Linked DNA regions of Homo sapiens: region 2 is linked to region 1. A link means that fine-mapping ties the variant in region 1 to the expression of a gene that starts in the linked region. Tissue or cell type: whole blood. Region 1 holds a variant in brackets; the other region holds the start of a gene. All regions are shown on one strand. Distances are from middle to middle.

Region 1 (2,841 bases):
CTGAGTGTATGTGTCCTCTGTTGAAACTGCAGTTGAAGCTGACTTGTATCTCTGAATCCAGATGCCTAATTCCTGGAATACAGAGTTTGACTGGCCCATCTTGAGTCAGGTAAATTAACTTTGCTTGGGGAAGCAGGTCATGTAGCTAAATGTGGCTGCTATGTCCCTGGCTTAGGGGGTGGAAGGAGAGGCTAGAAGAAGGAGTTTGCTAAAAATGGGGGTCACTGGCTGAGAAGGCTGCCCAGTAGGTGTCTTCTTCAAGGAGGGACACAATTTCTCAGTTTTTATTCTTCCTAGTGCCCAGCACAGTGCCTTACAAACAGTAAGTGCTCAGTGAACAATTGAGGGGTGGTTGAGATGAGAAGAAAATAGCAAAATGCTCTGTATCTGAGGCCCTGTGGCATCATATCATTTATCCAGGAGCCCCAGGTGCTGGATGGTTAGGAAGGCCCCTCTTCCCGATCAGTCTACAAATATTGGTCCAGTACCATATGGTAAGTGCCTTCCATGCACACCTGCTCCACATATATTTACTATTTTTTTTCTGGGTTTCCAGAATTCTTTGACACCTGTAGCATATTTACTGTAGTTTATTATTATTATTTTTTTACACATTGACATTTGGACCCAGTGTTTCAAATGTAAAACTCCTTACCTAGAAAGTTATCAGAAGTTAAATAAAAATACAGGCTGGGCTCAGTGACTTTCGCCTGTAATCCCAGCACTTTCGGAGGCGGGTGGATCGCTTGAGCTCAGGAGTTCAGCCTACGCAAAAACTCCGTCTCTAAAAAAAGTACAAAAATTAGCTGGGTGTGGTGGCGCATGCCTGTAATCCCAACTACTCGGGAGGCTGAGGCAGGAGGATTGCTCAAACCCAGGAGGCGGAGGTTGCACTGACCCAGATCAGCCACTGCACTCCAGCCTGGGTGACAGAGCGAGATCCTGACTCCAAAAAACAAAGAATACAATGAGCATATTATTTGCTAACAACTAACATTGTTTAAAGATAAATGTATCCCCTGTCTCTCAGCTCTTTGGGCACTGTAAATATTTTGTAATTTAGTCTTTAAGCCCCTCCCCCCTGCCCACTTCCACCCGCCCAGCTCCTCTGGGGCCAGGCCTCTTCCTTTCTGCTCTCACACCACCCCTCTAAACTGGTCTGTCAGTCTGTCCGGTTGTCAGGGCTGACTGGCTGACTTGATAAACTTGTTCCACCAAAGGCGTTTCCCCCTGGGCAATTCGTTTCTTTCCCAACTCTCTCCCCGCAGACCCTGGAGGATGGTTTGTGTCTTAACAGGAGCATTCCAAGGACAAAATCTAATGACGCAGTGGTGGCAGGAGTTTTGTTCATGGACACAGGTCAGTGGGGAAGAGCATTTTAATGTAGGGCCTTTCCCAGCAGTCACCAAATCTTCATAGTAATCCCCACGAGTT[G/A]AGCACCTCCATGTGCCAGACACTATGATATGCACTTACAGTGGCACAGCCTCACAAACACCCTAAAAGATGGACATTAGCATCTGCATTTTGCAAATAGGAGCAGAGGGTCACAGAGCTTAAACAATGTTCTTCCTCAAGGCAGCAAAACAAATAAGAACCAGCCCTGAGGTCCAAACCCGGAGTCTTTTCTTTCAACCCGTGCAACCTCCCTACCCCTCCTTATATCCCATTGGCCTCTCACCGTGTTCTACGAGACCACAGCCCTTCGAGAGTAGACATGCATGTCCCCAGCCAGCCCAGAAGGAGATCACAGTAGCTACTTCCAGGTGGCGGAGGAAGGGCCCTGTCAGCCACAGGCCTTCTGCAGTCTCCCTCCTTGTCTCTCATGGACAGTCCCTGGAGGAACTGCTGCGTCCATGGCCACATCCCAATGTCCCATCTGCAGTTACCAAGAGAAGACTTGCTAAGATGTTCAGGGAAGAAAGGACATCATTCAGTGCTAGAACAGATTCGCCAACACCACAGCTCTTCTCCTGCCTCTGTGTCTCAACATTCAGACTGAAACTCTGAGTTCTGCAGCCCAGGAAGAGACTCCAGGAAACTGGGGGCCACTGTGCCTGCAGGCTCGTTTTCAGTCCCACCCCTCAGCCCTCCCAAGAAAATCCATAGAGAGTATCCTTCAGCATTTGTGACAGGGGAACCAGGGGACCCTCAGAATCAAAAACCCGTGGCCAGGCTGAAACCTCACACTTCACTTTCCCTAGAAATACCTACATTGAAAGAAGTTTTGCAAATCAAATCATAAGTATGTTGGAATTAATGATATACTATTAAATCCACTGTGGTGGCAAAGTCTTGGAAAATGAACTTTGTGTAATTTTTAAAAACACACTTCAACTCATCTCTTTCTTTTCTTTCTTTTTTTTCTTTTCCTTTTTTTTTTTTTTTTTTAGGCACTGGCACGATCTCATCTCACTGCAGCCTCCACCACCAGGGTTCAAGCAATTCTCCTGCCTCAGCCTCCCTAGTAGCTGGGATTATAGGCGTGCACCACCATGCCCAGCTAATTTTTGTATTTTTAGTAGAGATGGGGTTTCGCCACGTTGGCCAGGCTGGTCTTGAACTCCTGACCTGAGGTTATCTGCCCGCCTTGGCCTCTCAAAGTGCTTGGATTACAGGCGTGAGCCACCACACCGGGCCGTCACCTCATTCTCTTTACTTTCTATACCATCCTCTGAATGTTTGAAGGTGAGGCACATTCTCAGGCCAAAAATCTTTGCCAAAACCCAAGTTTAAAAAAACTAAGAAAAATTTGGTAAACTGGAATTCCTGACCTTTCCTAAACATCGTCAGCAATGAGTCTCAGCCCTTATCTTTCTGCCTGAAGAGCTCAGGGCTCTTCAG
Region 2 (2,500 bases), 62 kb after region 1:
CGCCCCGTGGGTGCGCACGCGTGTCCGCGCAGGCTTCCCGCCTGGCGAGTGCAAGGCTCCTCTCCGCCGTGCTGCTTTCCAGCCTCTCAGCAAATCACGAACACCGAAAGAAGCCACGGCGGCGACGGGAGGGGCGTCGCGCGTGCTTCCCTCGGCGACAAAGCGGGAGCCGGGCGCGCCGGCCGAGGGCGCCCGGCGCAGAGTCCCGCAGAGGCGGACGCCGCGGCACGCGCCTCGAAAAGCCTCAAACTCTTATCCTCGGCTCTCCCGCCCCACCTCCGCCCCGCAGCCAAGACCCGCGCCGTGGCGGGCCCGACGGCCAAGGAAAGCCCACCAGCCCTCCGCACCGTGGGCGACGGGCCAAGACCCGGCCCTAAACGGCCAGACCCAGCCCCTAGTCGGCTGCCGCCCCCGCCCCACGCAGGCGCGCTCCGGGGCCCTCCCCTCCCCCACCGCGCGCTCGCGGGGCCCGACGGGGGCGGAGCGACCCTCGGAAGGGGCGTGGCGACCGGGCTCGACGCGCGCACGCGCTCTGGAGCCCCACGGCTACGTGTCGGGCCACGTGATGCCCACCCCGAAAGTCCCCCGTGAAGCAACAGGACGTTAAAAAAAAATTTCTCTTCTGCGGGGTGGATAAGAGGTTCTGAAAAAACTATAGTAACGGGAGGCGAGGCGGAGGCAGCGCTGGCGCGTCCCGCTGGAATTCCTCTCGCCTGCCGCGCCAGCCCCGACCGCGCCCGCAGCCCCACCCGCCCCGTGCCGTGGAAAGCCCCGCGCCCCCCCCGCGGCCGTCGGCCCCGCAGCCCACACCCACCCGCCCCGGGCGCCCCGCACGGCGGCGACCCAGTCCTTGCGCCCAGGCCCGCCGAGCGCCGCAGTCCGTCACACTCCCGTTGCCCCCGTCGCCCGCCCCGCCGGGGAGGCAGGGAGGAGGGGGCGCGGCGCCGGCGGCTGCCCCGGTCGCGGGGCGGCGGGCAGCAGGCAGCGGGAGCGCGCCGGCCGGGACCCGCTAACGGCCGCCCTGCGCGGCCCCGCCCGCCGCCCGCCCCCGGCCCTCCCCGCGCCGCTGCCCCTCCCCCCGCCGCCGCCGCTGCTGCCGCCGCCGCTGGCAGCGCCGCCTGAACTGAGGCGAACTCCGCCGCCAAGTGAGTGAGGAGGAGGAGGAGGAGAAGGAGGAGGAGGAAGAGGAGGAGCGCAGTCGGAGCGCGGCGGCAGCGGCAGAGGCGCCGCGGCGGGGACCAGCCCAGAGAGACCCCCCGAGCCCGCGGCACAGGCGGCGGCGGCGCTGAGCGGGCTCGACCAGCCGAGCGAGCGGCGGCCCCGGCTCCTCCTCGTCCGGCGCCAGCAGCCCGCGCCCCGCGCCCGCACTCGGCCAGCCGAGACCCGCCTCCCGCCCGCCCGCCGGCCTCGTGAGGGACGCGCCGAGCCGGGCGGCCGAGAGCGGCGGCGGCTGGGAGCGCGTCGGGCCCGGGCGGAAAGTGCCTGCGGGGGGCGGGCGAGCGCGCGGTGCCGGCCGCCCCGGGGCTCGGCGCGGGAGCCAGAGCGGGAGCCGGCGCGGAGCGGGACGCCGGGTCCCGAGCGGCCCGCGGCCGGGGCTCGCCCCCGCCCCTCCCTCCTCTCCGGCGGCGGCGGCGGCGGCGGCGGGCGGAGTGAGCTGCGGAGCCTGGAATATGGTCGGGGAAATGGAAACGAAGGAGAAGCCGAAGCCCACCCCAGATTACCTGATGCAGCTGATGAACGACAAGAAGCTCATGAGCAGCCTGCCCAACTTCTGCGGGATCTTCAACCACCTCGAGCGGCTGCTGGACGAAGGTGAGCGTCTCCAGGGCCCCGGCCCCGGCCCGACCCCCGCCGGGGCGGCCCCTTTCCCCGCTTGGGATGGTGGGGAGGGCGGGAAGGTCACGGCCGGGCGGGACCGAGCGCCGGGGGGACTGGGAGGCCAGGAGGGCGCACAAAGGAGGTGCCGGGCCGGGCTTGCGGCGGGCGGGCGGGCCGGGGTGGACCCGCCGGTGCCGGACGCCCCCTGCCCGGCCGGGACCCCGCGCCGCTGGCGTCCAAGTTGGCGCGTTGCGGAGGGCTGCGGGGTGAGCCCTGCGGCCCCTCTAGCTTCGGCGGTCACATTTCCGAGAGGTCGGCGGGGGCTGCGCGGACTCGGTGGTCCTCGCCGAGCCCTCCCGAGAGCAGGCCCACGCCGCGCCGCCGGCCTGGAGGACGCGTGTGCCCGGCGCGGGCCCCGCTCCTCCGCTCGGCCTCCCGAGCCTGCTCTGCGCGGACCCCCACCGCCCCGCGTTCGGGAGCTCTCCCCTCCCGTGAGGACTAAAGCGGGGTTTCGTGGTTGGGGAGTTGGTGCAGCTGTTCAATACTAAGTGGAAGTCAGTGTGGGGCTCGTTAGTTTAAAGAAATTCCGTAGGAGACCGAAATTATGCTGGCGTAGCCGACAAGGAGGACTAAGTGACGGCGAAAAGCACTTTTTTCCCTTTTGTTTGGGGAAGCGAGAACT

The links. PIP is the estimated chance that this variant, and not a neighbour inherited with it, causes the effect.
Region 2: QKI starts here. The variant in region 1 is fine-mapped to the expression of QKI in whole blood (INTERVAL, PIP above 0.99).

What each region holds. Positions count from the first base shown.
Region 1 is chr6:163,351,347-163,354,187 of GRCh38, forward strand. No RefSeq gene overlaps it. Among named protein-coding and RNA genes, the nearest start is that of DKFZp451B082, 5.7 kb to the left of the region's middle. The variant G/A (reference allele first, on the strand shown) is at 1,435.
Region 2 is chr6:163,413,524-163,416,023 of GRCh38, forward strand. It overlaps QKI (QKI, KH domain containing RNA binding), which reads left to right and starts at 1,195. Exons shown (of 8, transcript NM_006775.3): 1 at 1,195-1,812. The coding sequence starts at 1,671. It overlaps LOC124901234 (basic proline-rich protein-like), which reads left to right. Exons shown (of 4, transcript XM_047419614.1): 2 at 1-562; 3 at 726-1,145; 4 at 1,442-1,653. The coding sequence ends at 1,653. It overlaps CAHM (colon adenocarcinoma hypermethylated), which reads right to left and starts at 427. Exons shown (of 1, transcript NR_037593.1): 1 at 1-427. RefSeq lists silencers at 1-613, 704-1,523, 1,774-1,823, 2,024-2,213 and enhancers at 447-1,099, 1,100-1,753.